Homo sapiens: one gene and its partner. The protein of the gene in region 1 purifies or fractionates together with the protein of each later gene. This does not show direct contact. Each region holds a gene or a part of one and is shown on either strand. Other genes may lie near its edges.

Evidence for each region. The genes of interacting proteins can lie anywhere in the genome.
Region 2: the proteins of NLRP3 (region 1) and RNF125 purify together in Homo sapiens (affinity purification with western blotting, with the first as the bait; one study listed by BioGRID). This does not show direct contact.

Annotation. Positions count from the first base shown.
Region 1 is NC_000001.11:247,428,960-247,434,126, reverse strand, and holds part of NLRP3 (NACHT, LRR and PYD domains-containing protein 3), read right to left. Parts: intron 4,543-5,167; coding exon 4,372-4,542; intron 25-4,371; coding exon 1-24. UniProt on the Homo sapiens protein: Sensor component of the NLRP3 inflammasome, which mediates inflammasome activation in response to defects in membrane integrity, leading to secretion of inflammatory cytokines IL1B and IL18 and pyroptosis.
Region 2 is NC_000018.10:32,063,658-32,068,217, reverse strand, and holds part of RNF125 (E3 ubiquitin-protein ligase RNF125), read right to left. Parts: intron 2,317-4,560; coding exon 2,209-2,316; intron 1-2,208. UniProt on the Homo sapiens protein: E3 ubiquitin-protein ligase that mediates ubiquitination and subsequent proteasomal degradation of target proteins, such as RIGI, MAVS/IPS1, IFIH1/MDA5, JAK1 and p53/TP53.

The sequences.
Region 1 (5,167 bases):
TGCGAGAGGCCACAGCGCCCCAACCTTCATGCCAAGAACAGAGGCAGAAAGCATCAGAACACACCTGACCAGAGAGCTCCAGAACAGAGGAAGCATCAGGACACACCTGATCAGGAAGCTCCGGAATAGAGAAAGCATCAGAACACATCTGATCAGAGAGCTCCGGAATACAGAAAGCATCAGAACACACCTGACCAGAGAGCTCCGGAATAGAGAAAGCATCAGAACACATCTGACCAGAGAGCTCCAGAATAGAGAAAGCATCAGGACACACCTGACAAGAGAGCTCTGGAATAGAGAAAGCATCAGGACACACCTGACCAGAGAGCTCTGGAATAGAGAATGCATCAGGACACACCTGACCAGAGAGCTCCGGAATAGAGAAAGCATCAGGACACACCTGACCAGAGAGCTCCGGAATAGAGAAAGCATCAGGACACACCTGACCAGAGAGCTCTGGAATAGAGAAAGCATCAGGACACACCTGACCAGAGAGCTCTGGAATAGAGAAAGCATCAGAATACACCTGACCAGAGAGCTCCGGAATACAGCACAAGGCACATTGGGAGGTCAGCCCCCAGTCTCCCCAGTCACAGCAGAGGGATCACCTGTCAGTGAACTCCCGGCCGTAAACAGTGCCGGGTGCATTGAGATCACCCCCCAGACATGTGAATGGTGCGCTCCTGGTTTGTAAGTGAAGCGGGCGGTGTGGGCCTGTGCACCCACCTCCTTCCCTCGTGTTCCTAACCATTGACGTGCCCGCAGTCGGCACTGCCCTCGCCAGTGCTGCACTCAGCTATTTCTTGTCTTCACCAACATTGTCACCCCATTGTGTTTGACGATTTCATCCCAGCCCTCCATCTATATTGAAAGGAAAAGCAGCTCTGATTCTTTTTCTTTTCTTTTCTTTTCTTTTTTTAAAGACAGGGTCTCACTTTGTTGCACAGGCTGGAGTGCACTGGCGAGATCATAGCTCACTGCCACCTCGAACTCCTGGGCTCAAGGGATCCACCTGCCTCAGCCTCCCAAGTGGCTGCAAATACAGGCATGTGCTACCATGCTTAGCCATTTTATTTTATTTATATTTTATTTTTATTATTATTATTATCTTCTAAAGACAAGGTCTCACCAGCTTGCTCAGGCTGGTTTTGAACTCCTGGGCTCAGGTGATCTGCCCACCTCAGCCTCTCAAAGTGCTGGGATTCCACATCCCGCTGCAGCTCTGATTCTTGATTAGTTTCCCCGTCACACACATGCACACAAACACACACGCACATCACTACCACCGTCACCACCACCACCAGCAACAAAAACTATACTTTATCCCTGTCATGGGGGCAAGAACAACATTCTAGCTTCTTTCCAGGGCAATAGTTCATAGGTCCTGGAGCCTGTTAGACCACCTTCCTTTCTGTCCCTATCCTTACACCAACTTCAAGCAAATGGACAAATGGATCTCTACTTCTCTGCGAAGCATCTCACTGTCCCCTACCCTTCCCTGTTTGTGTCTGCCTCTCCAGAATCATACAGGGGCAATGGCAGTGGGGAGAGAATTTGGGCATGAAGTTGGAGAAATAAGGTTAAATGTCCCAAACAACCAGTCTCCATGGCACTACGATTTGAAATTTACCAAAAGAGCAAAGATGAAGAGTGTGATCTATATACATAATGGAATACTGCTCAGCCATAGAAAAGAATGAAGTCACATCTTTGAAGCCACACAGATGGAACTGGAGGCCATTACCTTAAGTGAAACAACTCAGAAACAGAGTCAAATACCACACGTTCTCACTTACAAGTGGGAGCTAAACAAAGGGTAACATCCATAGAGCATGGAATGATAGACACTAGAGCCTCAGAAGGGTGGGAGGGTGGGAGCCAGGTGAGGGCTGGAAAATTATTTATTGGGTACAATGTTCACTATTTGGGTAAGAGTTACACTAAGGCCGGGCACGGTGGCTCACGCCTGTAATCCCAGCACTTTGGGAGGCCGAGGCGGGTGGATCACGAGGTCAGGAGTTTGAGACCAGCCTAGCCAATACGGTGAAACCTTGTCCCTACTAAAAATACAAAAATCAGCTGGGCGTGGTGGCCCATGCCTGTAATCCCAACTACTCGAAGAATTGCTTGAACCCAGGAGGTGGATGTTGCAGTGAGCCGAGATCACTCCACTGTACTCCAGCCTGGGCAACACGGCGAGAGTCCATCTCAAAAAAAAAGGGGTAGTTACAGTAAAAGCCCAGACACTACCACTGTGCAGTAACATATCCATGAAACAAAGCTGCTCTTGCGCCCCCTACATCTACAAAAATAAATACATAAAGTAAAAAATAAAGAGCAGAGCAGACAGAAAGCATTTAAGCCACCGAACAGCACAATCGAATCAGAATTTTCTAAAGGACCATCTTACTTTTGTGCAGAGAATGGTCGGGTGAGGGAAAAAGGCAGACACAGGGAGACCAAAGAGCCAACATTCATTCAGTGCGTGCTTTTGACCACTGATGGGTACTAAGATGTCTGTCCAGGCGTGGCAAAGATGACAGCAAGACAAACAAACGCAAACCCCATCCCCGGGGAGCTGATGGTCTAGGAGGTCACTGCGTGTCCAGGCAAGTGGTGACAGTTGCTGGACCTGGGCTGGTGGGGTGAGGACGAGGAAAAGTGGAAAACAGCTCGGGTAGGAGGAAAAATTGATAAGACTGGTGACAAGGTGAGTGTGTTGAGCCGGAGAGGGAGGTAGCAAAATGTCCTAGAGTGGCGGACTTTAACACTTGCTGTGCAGCTCCTCAAAAATGCAGACGCCTGCATGCGTCCACAGAGCAGGGAATGAAACAGAGCTAGTGAGGCGGCCCAGGCACCAGCGCGGTGGGGCGTGTGAATCTGATTCATGGTGTGGGAGAAAGCAAGCACATTTTTTATTATTATTATTATTATTATTATTTTGAAATGGAATCTCGCTCTGTCACCCAGGCTGGAGTGCAATGGCACGATCTCGGCTCACTGCCATCTCCGCCTCCCGGGTACACACAGTTCTCCTGCCTCAGCCTCCCGAGTAGCTGGGACTACAGGTGTGAGCAAGCACATTATTAATAAAGTCACAGGAGATTCCCTGTGACATTTCAACCCATACAAAGCATTCTGACCAGGCTGGGCAACGTGATGAGACCACATCTCTACAAAAAAAATACAAAAATTAGCCAGCATGGTGGTGCATGCCTGTAGTCCCAGCTACTCGGGGGAGCTGAGGTGGGAGGATTGCTTGAGCCTGGGAGGTCGAGGCTGCAGTAAGCTGTGATCACACACTCCAGCCTGGGTGACAGAGAGAGGTCCTGTCTCAAAGAAAAAAAAAAAAAGTATTTTCATAGTTTTTAGGTGAGGTTGCCATTGTTGTAAATGGCAAATTCTCCAACTCTCATCTATGAACATGGCCCATGAGGAAATGGAATATATCGAGCATCATGGTTGTTTCAAGAAATGACTTTTTTTTTAGTTCCTCATTCATTCTTCCCCACACAAAACTTCCCCAGCTGGCCTCCAACCCATTCTACCTTCTCACTTGTTCTGGGCTGAACTGTGCCCCCCCAAAAATTTACATGTTGAAGCCCTAATCCTCAAGACCTCATAATGTGGCTGTTTTGGGAAATGGGGTCTTTAAAGGAGTGACTAGATTAACATTAGGTCTTGTGTAGTCATGCCTGACTGTGCCTAATCCATCAGGACTGCTGTCCCTGTAAGAAGAGGAGACTAGGCCACTCTTCCCCCCAAGGCAAGATGGCATCAGTACACAGGGAGAAGGGGGCATCTACAAACCAAGGAGGGCGGCCTCAGAAGAAACCAACCCTGCTGACACCTTGATCTTAGACTTTCGGCCTCAGAACTGCAAGAAAATGAATTTTTGTTGTTGAAGCCATTCAGTCTGTGGCACTTTGTTACAGCAGAAACCACACCACCGGCCGGGTGCGGTGGCTCATGCCTGTAATCCCAGCATTTTGGGAGGCCGAGGCGGGCGGATCACCTGAGGTCAGGACTTCGAGACTAGCCTGGACAACATGATGAAACCCCATCTCTACTAAAAATACAAAAAATTAGCTGGGTATGGTGGTGGGTGCCTGTAATCCCAGCTACTCAGGAGGCTGAGGCAGGAGAATCACTTGAACCCAGGAGGCAGAGATTGCAGTGAGCCGAGGTCACGGCATTGCACTCCAGCCTGGGCAATAAGAGCAAAACTCTGCCTCAAAAAAAGAAAAAAAGAAAAAGAAAAGAAAGAAACCACACCAGCAACCTGGTCCTGAAGATCTTTCTCCAGTCTGTTTCTCTCTCTCTCTCTCATATGAACTTGCACTCACACAGATCACATGCACGGGGACTCACCACAATCTCCGAATGTTACAGCCAGGATGCTGGAGCGTTTCACACAACACTCTCATCCCTGGGTCCCCCAGAGAATTGTCACTGAGGTCCAATTCAGTTAGACTCTGGCTGGTGCTCAGAACTGAAAAGAGGCCCCGGCAAAAACTGGAAGTGAGGTGGCTGTTCACCAATCTAGGAATTAGAAGGAAGACAGACAGAAAAGAAATCAGCCTCGAATAATAACTAACTGGAGCTGGGGGCCGGGGTGCCTGGCACCAGTTCAGAGAAATGCCTTCCGGGGATTAAGAAATGGGTCACGAAACCAAAAATTGTTCCCAGAGAAATGAAGAGGGCTGGATGAGCCTTGGTAAAAGCAGTTCTGCCTCCTCTCGGACGGAGAGCATGAGCCTGTGACTGTGGCGGACTGTGGCACCCTACAGCCTGCTCCCCAGTGTCCTCCTCTCGCCCTTACCAGTCCACTGTCCCAACATGGCCCTGAACGTTCTGTGCTGGGTGATCAGAGGGCAGTCCTCACTCCTGGCTACACAACAGCATCAGGAGTGCTCACAAAAATCCTCAGGCCAGGCTGGGCATGGTGGCTCACACCTGTAATCCCAGCACTTTGGGAGGCCGAGGCGGGCAGATCACCTGAGGTCAGGAGTTCAAGATCAGCCTGGCCAACATGGTGAAACCCTCTCTCTACTAAAAATACAAAAATTAATTGGGTGTGGTGGCACGAGCCTGTCATCCCAGCTATTAGGGAGGCTGAGGCAGGAGAATCACTTGAACCTGGGAGGTGGAAGTTGCAGTGAGCCAA
Region 2 (4,560 bases), on another chromosome or scaffold:
CTCATTTTGTAGGGAACTAAAGTTACGAGACTTGTCCAAGGTTCCACAAAGCCTGTCATAGAACCCAGGACTTTTGCTTTGGGGCTAATGAATTTTCTACTTCACTTTGTTGTCTATCGATTAACTAGTTACTGTCATAATAAACAGTCTTGATTTGAAATTTGAAGTTTTTATCTGATATAATGAGAAGTTTTTAGTCACCATTACAAATCCTGGTCAGAGTGCTATGTTCCACATAAACCTGTAAAATGGAGCAAAGTTCAGGCTCCCCCACAGGCTTCACCAATGCCAGCAGTACCACTGAATGGCTACTTCTGAAGAAAATGTTAAAAACAAAACTTTCTCCTTGCCTCCTATGTGTCAAAGTGGAATTCAAAATTCTATGTCAGCACATTCTATAAGTAAAACAAAAACCATTAAGAACCCTATCCTCTGCAATCCCTCTCCTCTTCCGCAATAACAAAAGGTGAAATCTCTATTCAAAGTCCATTCTGCAATATAAAAACAAAACAAAAAAACCCCCACAAAATCCAAAGGAAAGTCATAAAGTACAGCAGAACACAAGGTTTGGTCTTGATACTGGCTTGTTCTTAGATAATTCAGTTAACCTTTGAGCTTCAGATATTTCAGTTAAATGAAGATAAAAATACAGTATTCACTTCACGGAAGTTGCTACAAGGAATAAAATGTGATATATACATATAGTGCTTAGCTTAGTATATAGTAGCTCAGGAAGCAAAAAATCAAAACAAAGAACACTACTTCCAGTTCACTTCCCTACCCAAGAATATGGCTGTGAGTGGCTGGAAAGTATTCCTATCAAAGTGGCTTCATCCTGCCTAGCTCTGGATCATGCTTTGTCTGAAAGATCTTGAGAACAGACTGAGCATGATTAGACAGAACAGCCATAGAATCGACCTGGCTTTTAGAACACCTCATAGAGCTAAGGTAAAGAGAAACCTCTTGAGACGGAGTCTCGCTCTGTCACCCAGGCTGGAGTGCAGTGGCGCGATCACGGTTCACTGCAAGCTCCGCCTCCCGAGTTCACACCATTCTCCTGCCTCAGCCTCCAGAGTAGCTGGGACCACAGGCGCCCGCCACCATGCCCAACTAATTTTCTTGTATTTTTAGTAGAGACAGGGTTTCACCGTGTTAGCCAGGATGGTCACGATCTCCTGACCTCATGATCCGCCCATCTCGGCCTCCCAAAGTGCTGGGATTACAGGTGTGAGCCACCACGCCCGGCCAAGAGAAACCTCTTTGTATTACCAGAGAGAACACATAGACCAGAACCAAGTTCTGTTGAGGCCTGTGTGCCATATGGGCCACAAAAGACATGCTTAGAGATATGGAGCTGAGAATTTAAAGCCTCTGTCATGTTCCTTGTTCAGTTCCTCAAGTGGTCCTAACAATTCTACTCCCATCCCATCTCCAATTTGCCTAACATCTGCACCTGAACTGTGCAAAGCACTTTATATACATTATCTCATTTAATCCTAAGAAGAATTTTGGGAGTAGGTGCTTTTAATCTCTTCCCTTAACCAGTGCACAAACTGAGTTTCCGAGGTTAAATACCTTCTGCAAGGTCGCACATATATGACAGAGCTATTGCTTAAAACTAGTTTAGAACCTGAGCTCCTTGTATCCAACCTGGATAATAATAATTGGCAGATAGAAAGCATGGAGAAAATTCTCAAATGACAATCTTCAATCGTTATTAAATTTTATCTTGAAATTGCATTTCATTTTTTTTTTTTTTGAGACAAAGTCTCACTCTGTTGCCCAGGCTGGAGTGGAGTGGTGTGATCTCAGCTCACTGAAACCTCTGCCTCCTGGGTTCAAGCGATTCTCCTGCCTCAGCCTACCGAGTAGCTGGGACTACAGGCGTGTACCACCATGCCTGGCTAATTTTTTTATTTTTAGTATTTTTAATAGAGATAGGATTTCACCATGTTGGCCAGGCTGGTCTTGAACTCCTGACCTCAAGTGATTCGCCCACCTCGGCCTCCCAAAGTGTTGGGATTACAGGCGTGAGCCACTGCACCAGGCCAAAACATTCTATTTTCATGATTTCTTACTTAATGCTAATACTCAACACTATAGCTATATACACATTTTTTCCTCTATAATTTTATTCACTTGGATCGGAAAGGTAAGCTTAACAAGACAGCATGAAAACATAATGTAAAAATAAGAAAATATACTTACTATGAAATCATCATAAAACAAAGTGTGACTAACTTGCAGATGTCTTATTAAACTGCCACTGAAGCTGCTTGGATTCTCATCGGGTATTAAACGGCAAAGTGGACAGAACTGGAAACAAACAAGACCAGGGGTTCAAGAAAGAATTTAAAATCGTTATTAGTGTTAGAATTAAAAACAACGGCTGGGCGCGGTGGCTTACGCCTGTAATCCCAGTACTTTGGGAGGCAGAGGCGGCCGGATCACCAGGTCAAGAGATGGAGACCATCCTGGCCAACATGGTGAAACGCCGTCTCTACTAAAAATACAAAAATTAGCTGGGCGTGGTGGTACGTGCCTATAGTCCCAGCTACTCGGGAGACTGAGGCAGGAGAATTGCTTGAACCCGGAGGCAGAGGTTGCAGTGAGCCAAGATCACACCACTGCCCTCCAGCCTGGCGACAGAGCAAGACTCCGACACACAAAAAAACAAAACAAGACGGGGTGCAGTGGCTCACACCTATAATCCCAACATTTTGGGAGGTTGAGGCGGGTGGATCACGAGGTCAGGAGTTCAAGACCAGCCAGGCCAAGATGGTGAAACCCTGTCTCTACTAAAAATACAAAAATTAGCTGGGCGCAGTGGCAGATGCCTGTAATGCCAGCCACTCAGGAGGCTGAGGCAGGAGAATCACTTTAATCTGGGAGGCGGAGGTTTCAGTGAGCCGAGATCTTGCCATTGCACACCAGCCTGGGCAACAAGAGCAAAACTCTGTCTCAAAAAACAAGACAAAACAAAACAAACAATAACAACAAAAAACAACAACAGGTAACCATTCAAAAATAAACTGTCAACTTTATTCATCCATTAGCCATACCTCAGTATTATGTTATAAAATTGCATAAACATGAAAGCAACATTAAGCAAATAAAATTACATGTCTTCATATGCATTTCTTGCTCATATGCATACATAACAATATAACTATTTGTTTCATATTCATCAATTTATTATTTAAACAATATTACAATTAATACATGTACCATAATTTACTTAATTAGTTTGCCTACCTCTTGGAATACTTGTTTGTATATGGATATTTTACTATCACAAATGAGAATAACTATAGTGTTTACCTTTTAGGGGATTAGTTCCTTAGGAGAAATGACCAGAAATGGCAATTACCAGGTCAACAATTATGAACGTTGGCCAGGAGCGGTGGCTCACTCCTGTAATCCCAGCACTTTGAGAGGAGGCCAAGGCAGGTAGATTACTTGAGGCCCAGAGTTCAAGACCAGCATGGCCAACATGGTGAAACCCTGTCTCTACTAAAAATACAAAAATGAGTCAGACGTGGTGGTGCACACCTGCCTGCTATCCCACCTACTTGGCAGGCTGAGGCAGGAGAATTGCTTGAAAAAAGATTTCACTAGGTTTTGCCTGTACTCATATTTTTCAGTGTGTGTGTGTGTGATATAGTTTGGAAACTTGTCCCCACCCAAATCTCATGTTGAAATGTAATCCCTGGGTGTGGAGACAAAAAAATTAGCCAGGTATGGTGGCAGCACCTGTAATCCCAGCTACTCAGGCAGCCGAGGCACCAGCTCTGTCTCAAAAAAAAAAAAAAAAAAAAAAAGAAAAAGAAAAAGATTTCACCAGATTTTGCCTGTACTCATATTTTTCAGTGTGTGTGTGTGAGATATAGTTTGGAAATTTGTCCCCGCCCAAATCTCATGTTGAAGTGTAATCCCTGGGCGCCGTGGCTCATGCCTGTCATCCCAGCACTTTGGGAGGTGGATCACTTGAGGTAGGAGTTCATGACCAGCCTGGCTAACATGGCAAAACCCATGTCTACTAAAAAGACAAAAAAATTAGCCAGGCGTGGTGGTGCACACCTGTAGTCCTGGCTACTCCAGAGGCTGAGGCAGCAGAATGGCTTGAACCCAGGAGGCAGAGGTTGCAGTAAGCCGAGATCGCACCACTGCACTCCAGCCTGGATGACAGAGTGAGACCCTGTCTCAAAAAGAAAAAAAAAAGGACTTGATGGATTAAAAAAAAAAAAAAGATACAGACCATTCTGTCACTGCAAAGGAATGTCAGTGCGTTGCTATCCTTTATTTCCTTCTCTCTCCCTAACCTCTGCTCTGTTCCCCATATTATTATTATTACTATTTCGAGAAACTTATATAAATAGAACTATACAGTATTTAACCTTTTGAGATTGGCTTTTCCCATTGAGCATGACTTTGAGATCCATCTAAGTTGCTGGGTGTATCCATAGCTCCCTCCTTATTACTGAGTAGTATTTCATGTATGGATGTCCCACAGTCTGCTTATCCATTTATTTTGTAAAGGGCATTTGGGTTGTTTCCAGT